3 linked regions of the Homo sapiens genome follow. The protein of the gene in region 2 interacts with the protein of the main gene of each other region in a pairwise test. Each region holds a gene or a part of one and is shown on either strand. Other genes may lie near its edges.

The links.
Region 1: the proteins of CD69 (region 2) and MAL interact in binary tests that used the Homo sapiens proteins (3 or more experiments, as listed by UniProt).
Region 3: the proteins of CD69 (region 2) and CLDN1 interact in binary tests that used the Homo sapiens proteins (3 or more experiments, as listed by UniProt).

Annotation. Positions count from the first base shown.
Region 1 is NC_000002.12:95,046,119-95,049,777, forward strand, and holds part of MAL (myelin and lymphocyte protein), read left to right. Parts: exon of another isoform or gene 1-29; intron 30-396; exon of another isoform or gene 397-660; intron 661-1,157; exon of another isoform or gene 1,158-1,840; coding exon 1,841-2,008; intron 2,009-3,462; coding exon 3,463-3,588; intron 3,589-3,659. UniProt on the Homo sapiens protein: May be involved in vesicular trafficking from the Golgi apparatus to the cell membrane. Plays a role in the maintenance of the myelin sheath, and in axon-glia and glia-glia interactions.
Region 2 is NC_000012.12:9,754,801-9,757,917, forward strand, and holds part of CD69 (early activation antigen CD69), read right to left. Parts: intron 1,620-3,117; coding exon 1,497-1,619; intron 462-1,496; coding exon 262-461; intron 1-261. UniProt on the Homo sapiens protein: Transmembrane protein expressed mainly on T-cells resident in mucosa that plays an essential role in immune cell homeostasis.
Region 3 is NC_000003.12:190,308,907-190,312,565, reverse strand, and holds part of CLDN1 (claudin-1), read left to right. Parts: intron 1-2,312; coding exon 2,313-2,397; intron 2,398-3,659.

The sequences.
Region 1 (3,659 bases), on a different chromosome or scaffold from region 2:
GCTTCTCAGTCAAGCAGCTCAGAGAACACCTGTGAAGACAGCGGTATCTCTCACCCAGCAGGTGGGCAGCAGGTGCAGGGAGGTGGGGGGGTCAAGGTGCTATGTGAATTCAAACCACAGGGGACATAGGCCTGGGAGGGCAGCCCCATCCTCAGCCCCCCAGACACTTCTGTAGTACCTTGGAGACTTTTGGCTGCAAAGGAATCTCCACATAGGCCTGGAGTGCTTCGAGCCCAGTCCTCATCCAAGTGGGGAACATGTGGATGAGGCTGAGCTGATTCTTACTGGGTGGGGGTGGCGCTGGGGGAGATGAGGAGAAGGGAAAGAGAAGTGCAGAAAGTCCCCGCTGGGGTTTGTACACGCCTGTCCACAGTGAGGAACGGAGTTTGTACGTACCCATCCGCGGTGGGGAGCGGGTTTGTATGTGTCCATCCACGGCGAGGAGCGGGGCTGGGCTACTGAGGGGTGCTACTGGCCCCCATGTCTGCTCCTCTTTGACTGTATGGGGCTCACTGACCCTGGCGACATCAACTGGGGTGTATTCTGGATAACCACGGGACTGTACTTTCCTCATGCCCATCCTCAGCCATCCAAAGAGACAAGGCTGTCCTTGGTTACTCCATTCCAACTCCAAATCTGATCATCAGAACACTTCCTGGACTTGGGAATATAAACAGTTGAATCCAGAAAAAGAAATAATGAGCAAGAGAAAGAAAGAGAGAGAAAGAGAAAGGGAGAGAGAGAGAGAAAGAGAAAGGGAGAGAGAGAGAGAAAAGAAAGAGAGAGAGAGAAAGAGAGAGAAAGAAAGAGAGAAAGAGAAAGAAAGAAAGAGAAAAAAGAAAGAAAGAAAGAAGAAAGAAAGAAAGAAAAAGAAGGAAGGAAGGAGAGGGAGGGAGGGAAGAAGAAATGAAGGAAAGAGAGAGAGAGAAAGAAAGGAAGGGCAGGGCAGGGGACTACTGACAGTGTGGTTAATTTGTTTTGCCAAATAAAGACCAAAAAGATCTGCTGGTCACTACCATTGCATAAAGGAAAGGACATTTTAATATCAAAGCAAGTAGGAGGGCTAGAATATCAGAAGAAATAGCAGCTCTTCTCATGACAATACCAAATGGCATAAATCCTTTCTCAGAATGATGAATTACTTAACTTCCACCTACCTCAGTTTCCTCATCTGGCAAACAGGTCAGCATTGCTCAGAGGGTTACTGTGAGAATCACTGAGTTATTATTTGTAAAGTGCTTAGGATAGTGCCTGGAATGTAGGTCTGATATAAGTGTTTGTTAAATAAAAAAATTAAACCCATATTTAAAAAGTTACTCAGGCCAGGTGCAGTGGCTCACGCCTGTAATCCCAACCCTTTGGGAGGCTGAGGAGGGCAGATCACCTGAGGTCAGGAGTTCAAGACCAGCCTGGCCAACATGGTGAAACCCCGTCTCTACCAAAAATAGAAAAATTAGCTGGGCATGGTGGCATGCACCTGTAATCCCAGCTACTCAGGAAGCTGAGGCATGAGAATCACTTGAACCCAGGAGGCAGAGGTTGCAGTGAGCCACACGCCACTGTACTCACGCCTGGGTGACAGAGCAAGACTCTGTCTCAAGAAAAAAAAGTTTTAAAAAGTTAATCAGGGCAAGCGTGCCGGGGATTGGGATTGAGATCCAGCACAGGGCCCTGGGGGGACTAAAGATGCATTTTTGCAGAGGAAAATGCCTGCCCTGTTCTCTTTGCCTGCTTCCTGTGTTTTTGCACTCCAGTCACCCCATGTGACCGCTGGTCGGGGGCCCTTCCTGGGCTGGGGCTCTCCTCTAGGCCAAAACTCACCCCTCCTCCTCCCCCGCAGATCTTCGGGGGCCTGGTGTGGATCCTGGTGGCCTCCTCCCTGGTGCCCTGGCCCCTGGTCCAGGGCTGGGTGATGTTCGTGTCTGTGTTCTGCTTCGTGGCCACCACCACCTTGATCATCCTGTACATAATTGGAGCCCACGGTGGAGAGACTTCCTGGGTCACCTTGGTGAGTCCAGCCCAGGGTGGCTGCTGGTTGTAGGGGGGCGCAGGAAGTACTGGTCCCTGGCCCAGTAGGATGGGCTTTTCCAGTGCCAGGTGAGACTTCTCCGTAGATGTCACCCCACCATGTTCCAAGGCTGAGCCTGCCCAGGGCTCCTGGCAGCAGAATCAGGAGAGGCAGGGGCAGAGGCAAGGTCGCCGCTGCCAACCCTCACTGGACCTGTTCTGTGTTCTCCTGCATGACTGCCTTTCCATGGATAACCAGCTGCCCAGCCCCCACACCACCTGTACCCGCCAGGTGCCTGCCTGCCCCTCCCATCACCTGCAAGGGCTGTTTTCACCTCAAGGCAGCAGGGCCCCAGAGGCCGACCAAGGTGTTGGGCTCCAGAAATTGGCCCTGGCTCTGAGGGTCAGGCCATGCTTACTGTCCAGCTCCTCAGCCACTGCCTTCCAAGCAGGGCTGCCAGAGAGCACTGGGAAACAGAAGCGGCCTTTGGTCATTATTCTGTATAAATTCTGCTTTGAGACCCATGAAAAGGTAACTTTTACATGTAGGACACTTGCCTGTTACCTGCTGTAGGGGTGGTGGGGCCATTTGGCCAAGGCTGTCACTCTCAAAAGCTCTGCTACTTAGACTTTTGAAATCACTTCCAAATCACAACTACACAAAACCCTGTTTTAGTACCTTTTTGCTTTCATTTATTACTTTATTTTGAGTTGGGGGTCTCATTCTGTCACCCAGGCTGGAGTGCAGTGGCGCAATCTCATCTCACTGCAGCCTCAACCTCCCAGGCTCAAGTGATCGTCCTGCCACAGCCTCCTGAGTAGCTGGGACTACAGGCATGTGCCACCACACCCAGCTAAGATGTATTGTTTTGTGTAGAAATGGGGATCTAACTATGTTTCCCAGGCTGGTCTCAAGTCCTGGCCTCAAGAGATCCTCCTGCACCAATCTCCCAAAGCTCTAGGATTACAGTCATGAGCCACCACGCCCAGCCCTTTTTTGCTTTTAAATATACCAGGGGCCAAAAATAAGCAATGAAACAAAACAAAACAAAACAAAACAAAACGAAAGAAACAGCATGGTCCTCCCTCACCCTGCACTGGTCAGCGAGGCCACACCCAACCTGGACTGTGGCCATGCACGACACTTCTCAGATCCAGGACCAGCTTTTCCCTGGGACACCCCAAGCTGCTGGCCCTTCCTCCACCTCTCCCTTGACCCTTCCTCAGGGGAGACCAGTGTCCCATCCCCAGCAAAGTGCTCACTCTGGCCCCACAGCAGTGAAGTGAGACTCAGCACAGCAGGGCAGGCATGGGACCTCCGTGACAAGGTTGGGAGGGGTGGGATTCAAAGGAAGTGGGGGGAGAGGCAAGGGGCGGGGGTGGAGGGGACCTCAGCTCTGCATCTGGGCCCCGTCTCTCTCTCCCCATCCCTCTGACACCCCGTCTGCCCCATAGGACGCAGCCTACCACTGCACCGCTGCCCTCTTTTACCTCAGCGCCTCAGTCCTGGAGGCCCTGGCCACCATCACGATGCAAGACGGCTTCACCTACAGGCACTACCATGAAAACATTGCTGCCGTGGTGAGTCCGGGCACCTGGGGCTGTGTCCACAGCGGGCGGCTCCGTGGCTGGCAGGGTGTGTGTGGAGGCTG
Region 2 (3,117 bases):
ATGTACTCATTCTATATAGGATCAGCATATTTGGATTTCTGGTCTTTGAAGCTAAGCAATCAAATCAAATTTAAAAGATTAAATTAAATCTCATTTTGACCTCAGGCTGATCATATGGTTCTCTGGGATGACATTTTCCTACATCTGAAATAGGTACAATGTTTGTTTGTTTGTTTGTTTTCTCCACTTAGAAACGGAAGGAAAGCACTGATTAGCCATATGAATTAAAATAGTAGTATTTTATCTTTTTTTTATTCTTACCATGTCCTTTTCAGAATCAATGACAGCAAGAGTAGCACCATGTTCAGAACAAGCATTTTGGGCTGAAGTCCAGCTCCTCTTCACAGTAGAAATAAAGTAGCATTTCCTCTGGTAGCCAACCCAGTCCTCAGAGCATGAAGAAACATGGCTGTCTGATGGCATTGAGAATGTGTATTGGCCTGGACAATTGTATTGGCCCACTGTGAACAGAAAAATGCTTTGTTTTAGTAACAAAAGAAACCAAATACCCACAGCATGCAAAACTAGCCTTAGGATGCTATGTTGTGCTAGGTGGTGATAAAGTAAAGGATAAAAGCTAAAAAGTAGAATTCTGAAAAGGGTATGAAGAAAGAAAGTTCTCAGGACCATATCTGATCTTCCATTGTGCCTAATCATCATTGGATGGAGATATGAGGATGAGGGGATGTACTTTTGGTCATAATGTCAGAAAATGACAGAAATATAGAACAATTCTGAAAATTTGGACTAGATATTTCTTTGGACTAGAAAGGATAAAGTGCATTATACATTTCAAATAAGGTTTTGAATCTGAATGCAGAGGCGGAAGAATTTGAAGATGCAGTATTTATAGCACTAGGCTGGAAAGATGGAGAGAGTAACTAACTTTTAGGGAACCAATTCAAAATACAGAAAGACATATGACTCAGAATATCTCAAAACAATGGTAAACATTCCCATTTGTAAAAGATACAAATATATCTTGGTACAGCTGGAGGTATTGAATACCAAATCACTACTGACTCTCTGGGAACTTTTAAATATAATCTTAATTATTCAGAACTACCATTCTGTGTCCTTTGAGATAAAACACAAAAGACTGGCCACTTCCTGATTAATCTATGGCTTTAGATACGATTTTTTTCCATAATCAATGAATGTGAAGTTCACATTTTTTTCTAGCTAAATAGGTATTTATTCAGAATTCAAATCAGCTCCCTTCATTCTAGATGTAAACATCTTTTCAAATGCAATTTTATTCTACAGTAATATATAAATCATAGATACTTTTAATACTTATAAAAGTATTACATTAATTATTCAAGGATTGTGGAATTATGTTTAGTATTGATTAGGAAATTGGCCATATATGGTACATGGGATGATTCTGAATTAGCTAGTTTCTGATTAACTAGACTAAACTAATATTGATTTCAGCTGGGCATGAATGCTTACAGCTAGGAGGCTTTGAAAGAATTGATGAAGTGTAGACCCACCTGATAAGGCAATGAGAGCTATGATTAAAATGGTGATGAAGACCACATTCATTACAGCACACAGGACAGGAACTTGGAAGGACCCTTCATGACGTGTTGAGAAATGGGGACTGGTGGCATCATCTGGAAGGGAGAAAGTTGATGATGAGTTCAGGCAGACTATAGAAGTACTATAGGAATATGCAACATTCTTTTGAGGCATTTAAACTTAATATTTCCTATCTCATTATATGAAATTTCCCCGTCTCTTTATAGAAATTTCTAAGTTAATTTACCCCCAATTTTGAGTGAATTTGAATAGTTTATTGTTGGCTTGAAATGAAACAATTCAAGCATAATGATGAGATTATAAAGTGTCTCCCCAAAATATTTACCTGACACATATGATTTATACACTTAGTAACTATGAAAATTCTAAGTATATAATCAGTTTGTTTTAATGATGATAAGAACGTTTATTAAATATGCACATGCCCCAGAAGACACATAAAAAAATTCTAGGGCATGGTGGCTCACACCTGTAATCTCAGCATTTTGGGAGGCCGAGGTGAGTGGATTGATCACCTGAGCTCAGGAGTTCAAGACCATCATGAGCAACATGGTGAAACCCTGTCTCCACCAAAAATACAAAAAATTAGCTGGTCATGGTGGCACGCACTTGTGTTCCCAGCTACTTGGGAGTCTGAAGTGGGAGGATCGCTTTAGCCTGGGAGGCAGAGGTTGCTGTGAGCGGAGATTGCACCACTGCACTCTAACCTGAGTGACAGAGTGAGACCTTGTCTAAAAAAATAAATAAATAAATAAATAAAAAATTCTAGCATAATTCCTTAATCTCCTTGTAGTTACTGTTTGAGAGAAATGATGTGAATGGGATAAATATGGATAATATCATAAAGTAAAATATTGAATTGCTATATAAATATCTGACATTAAAATGACTGAACAAAATTTTAAACGTGACAGTATTTTTTGGTGAAGTTGCTGCAGATGTGGAGCAACTGGAATTTTCAGATATTATTGGTGGGAGAGTAAATTGGAAAAACACTTTGGAAACTGTTTCTTATAAAATTAAATATATGCCTTTTCTATGGCCCAACAAACCTACTCCTATGTATATCCTCAAGAAAAATGAAAATATGTTCTCAAAATGCCTTGTGCAAGAATGCTCCTAGCAGCTTTATTCTTAAGAGCCAAATTCCAGAAATAATCCAAATATCCACCAACAGGAAAATAAGTGAACAAATTATGGTATATCCATACAAGGGAATTCCGCTCAGCAATTCAAAATAAGACAACTGATACATGCAACAAAATGAAGGAATCTCCAAAAAAAATGTTGAGTGAAAAAAAATCCAGCCACAGAAGATTGTATACTACATATTTGCATTTACATGACTTTAAATAATAGTTGGTCTAAGCTCTGGTGTCAAAAATCAGAACAGTAGTTGCCTTTGTGTGTGTAGGAAAGGTAATTTAACTGGAATGGGACACAGGGCAAACTGTCTAGGGTGATGGAAAGATTCAAATGTTGCTGGTCTTGTGGTTATACCACTGTCATAAGTCGTTAAACTGTATACCTACGAGCTGTGCATTCATCGTATGTGAACTAAACCTCAATTTA
Region 3 (3,659 bases), on a different chromosome or scaffold from region 2:
ATAATTCCTATGGTGTCTCCACAGATACTATGTGGAAAAGATGGGGAGTAGTGAGAGAAAACACAAGAATATGTGAACCCTTCAGGTCTGTGAGGGATGGAAGGATTGGGATTATTGGAGAAAAATAAGGATAGCATTCCAGCTGGGCAGATCTAATTCGAGAATAAACAGGATGTGCCTGTAGATCAATGAAAAGAAAGGCCAACTGGAGTAGAGGTGGCCTGTTGGAATGGTCAGTTTAAAGCAGTTAGGAAAAAAAAAATACAGAAATACCTTTAAATTTTTTTGATAAAATAATATTATATTTTCCATTTAAAATAAATACGTGTTTTTTAGGCCAGGTGTGGTGGTTCACGCCTGTAATCCCAGCACTTTTGGAGGCTGAGGAGGGCGGATCACCTGAGGTCGTGAGTTCAAGACCAGCCTGGCCAACATGGTGAAACCCCATCTCTACTGAAAACACAAAAATTAGCTGGGTGTGGTGGTGCACGCCTGTAATCCCATATACTCCAGAGGCTGAGGCATGAGAATCACCTCAACTCGGGAGCCGAGATCGCACCACTGCACTCCAGCCTAAGCAACAGAAGACTGTCTAAAAAAAAAAGAAAAAAGAAAAGAAAAGAAATATCTGTTTTTTAATTCAAGTGTTGATTGATAAGTTACATTATGTGTCATTTGAGAAAATCAAAGTCAGAAAACATGGACAGCATTATTTCAAAGCTTTATAATAATGCCTATTTAAAAAATTATAGTGTATGTATACTTACGTGTGTATATGTACATACATATGCAATCTCTCTGTGTGTATATATATATCTTTATATCTATACACTGTGTTATATATGTTGATAATCTCCATATAAATTATACAGCTATAATAATAGACTACTATATGTTCTCTATATTAGGTATTAGATGCATATATTATATATGTAGTATATTATAGTATATTATTTTAAAAAAATAACAGATATAATTAATGATACAAATCTACTAATAGAAAAAAACTAGAATAGACTTTATTTTCTTATTTTCTTTTTGACAGAAGACTTGTAGGGGCTTTTGCTTCAGTATAATATGTCAGTTTAACCAGTAATTGAGGAAGAGTATCTGTGGCTTTGCTAAAGATGTGGTTAGTTTAAAATGACCAGTCTCTCAGTTTACCCAAATACAAATTGACTCCTCTCTGAAAAGGCATGGATAGTGTCTTATTCCCAATAATTTACTCTTATATCAAAGGCTGCGAATAGTAATCTTTGTGGCCATCGTGGCATGAAGTGTATGAAGTGCTTGGAAGACGATGAGGATGAAATGCATTGCATTCTTCCTTCGCTTGCCTTCTTGTAACTCCCACATGTGACTGCATCACTCCTATTCCAGTTTCAGGGACTTCTCTTAGGAGTAAGCATCACAAGTTCAAGACCATTCGCATGGTCTATTTGAGAAGCCAAAAGCAATAGTGTTTTCTGTCATGTCTAGAGGCAATTACATTGGACCATGTTTTTGGCTGGGGAGAGACAGTAGCATAGAAACATCTAATCTATCTATATTGATGAATACTTAGAATTACTACAAAAAAGTTATTTAACTTTTTTGATAAAAAAATGAAGTATTTTATACATCTTATAAATGATTAAGTGAATGATTTTGACTAAATGATTTCTCTGCTATCATTGAATATAAAATGCCATGGGAAATTGAGATTGGGTTGCATAAATTGATCTGATGTGGCACCCTCAACAAATCTCAGGCCAACCTATACCTATATCAGGTATTCCCTTGGCCAATGGGGCAGTAGTAATGCAGGTATTCTGGTCCATTCTGAGACATGTCCTGATCTCACTCTATCTAGCTGCTTGCATTCCTTTTGACTCTGCAGAAATGTAAATTTTGAGTTTGATCAAGAACATAGAAGAGTTTTCATCTTCCCCTTTTGCAAGTAATTCTACCTGTACTAATAATGACAATAGTTTTATCAAATGTAGTTTAGTATCCTAATGTATAACAGCATATTTAAAAGAGATTTTGTACAACATACACCTGCCTAATTGTTTCCAAAAAAGAATTATTTGTGCCAAGATATCATAAAAAAGTATAAATTTTGTCTAATGCCAACCTAGTATTTTTTTATATTTTAATAGATACTTGGAATAAATCATATCTGGACTTCTAATCTCCCTAATACCAAAATAAAAATGTCAACACTATTGATGAGATTTAATTCTTGCAAAATATGTTTTGGTTTAACAGGTTGTGTATTTAGGCTCAGTGTTCCATGGTGATTAACAGTCTTTTGTTTTGAATTTCTATAGGTCTGGCTATTTTAGTTGCCACAGCATGGTATGGCAATAGAATCGTTCAAGAATTCTATGACCCTATGACCCCAGTCAATGCCAGGTAACGCTATTCAGGCGTAAAATAGTTTGTTTTCTGAGAAAATGCCCTTTTTATATTCTACAAAGTCCTGCTAGTGCCATCATTTCCCAGATTTGCTTTCAAGAATTTTATGTCAAACCTACAAACAATTTAAATGATCTCTGACTTATGTCAAAATGAGTTTGATAATTGCTTTAACACCCTGTATTGATGACAAAATACCTTCCAAAGTAGAAAAGTTTCAAGCTCTGTGCTTTTCAACTGTATAACTGGGCTTTCTTTTGTTTGTTTTTTCAAATATTAATAAAGATGTTAATATATTTGAAATTTCCTTTTTGAAGTGTATTCTGATGTTTACAACACCTACCTAAGATTATTTGTAACTAATGCACAGTTTATGATTGATTGAGAAAAATTATACTACTATAGGGGTTAATGAATAATACTTCATTCCCAACAGTTCATTTTTACACGTAAAGCTATTATGTATGTTTTTAGTATGTTCAGATACCACCTTGAAATTTTTTGTTCTTTCACAACTGTAAAATTGGCTTTACAAAGGTCATCTTTCTTAATACTGCAGGTTGTGCAAGTTGAGCTGATTCTTAGCTCTCGTGTAACAACATTCTTTAATCAGAGACGAGGCTCTTCATCTCACTGTCTTCACATCTTTAATGCCTAATAACTACATTCAGTCAGGATGTTAAAATATAATTATTGTTTGTTGAGTGCTTAGATGAATGGATGAAAAACCTCAGTGTTTGGAGAGATAAGATGTGTTTCTTTTTATATAATCACCCACATATGGGAGAACACATACTGCAATGGTTGTGTTGGAGCCCATCCCATAAGATTTACAGTGTAAGAATAGAAACTGCTAGAGGTCAGTAGGCTAAAATTTCGCCAAGGTAATAACACCAGTAATGCACAGGAAAGCACTTTATAAATTGCCAGCCATTTTGCAATTGTTATTTACATTATTGCATGTGATCCTAAAAGCAGTCTATTGAGGCAGGTGGGATTATCCTGCTTTGAGAGTAGGAGAAACTGAGGCTGAGAGGTGAAGTTGCTATCCCAGAATTGCAGCAGTTGAGAGTCTGCATCAGGATTTAGACTTGGCCTTATAACTTATAGAACCAACCCTTCTCTACTCTTCCGTATTGTCCATAATCACTCACAGATACCCCACCCTAAGTGTCTGCTTTAATACATCTGCCTGGATCAGCTTAATCCAGAATGGTTCATGGGCTGCTTAGAACTTTTCTTTACAAAACCATAAGATT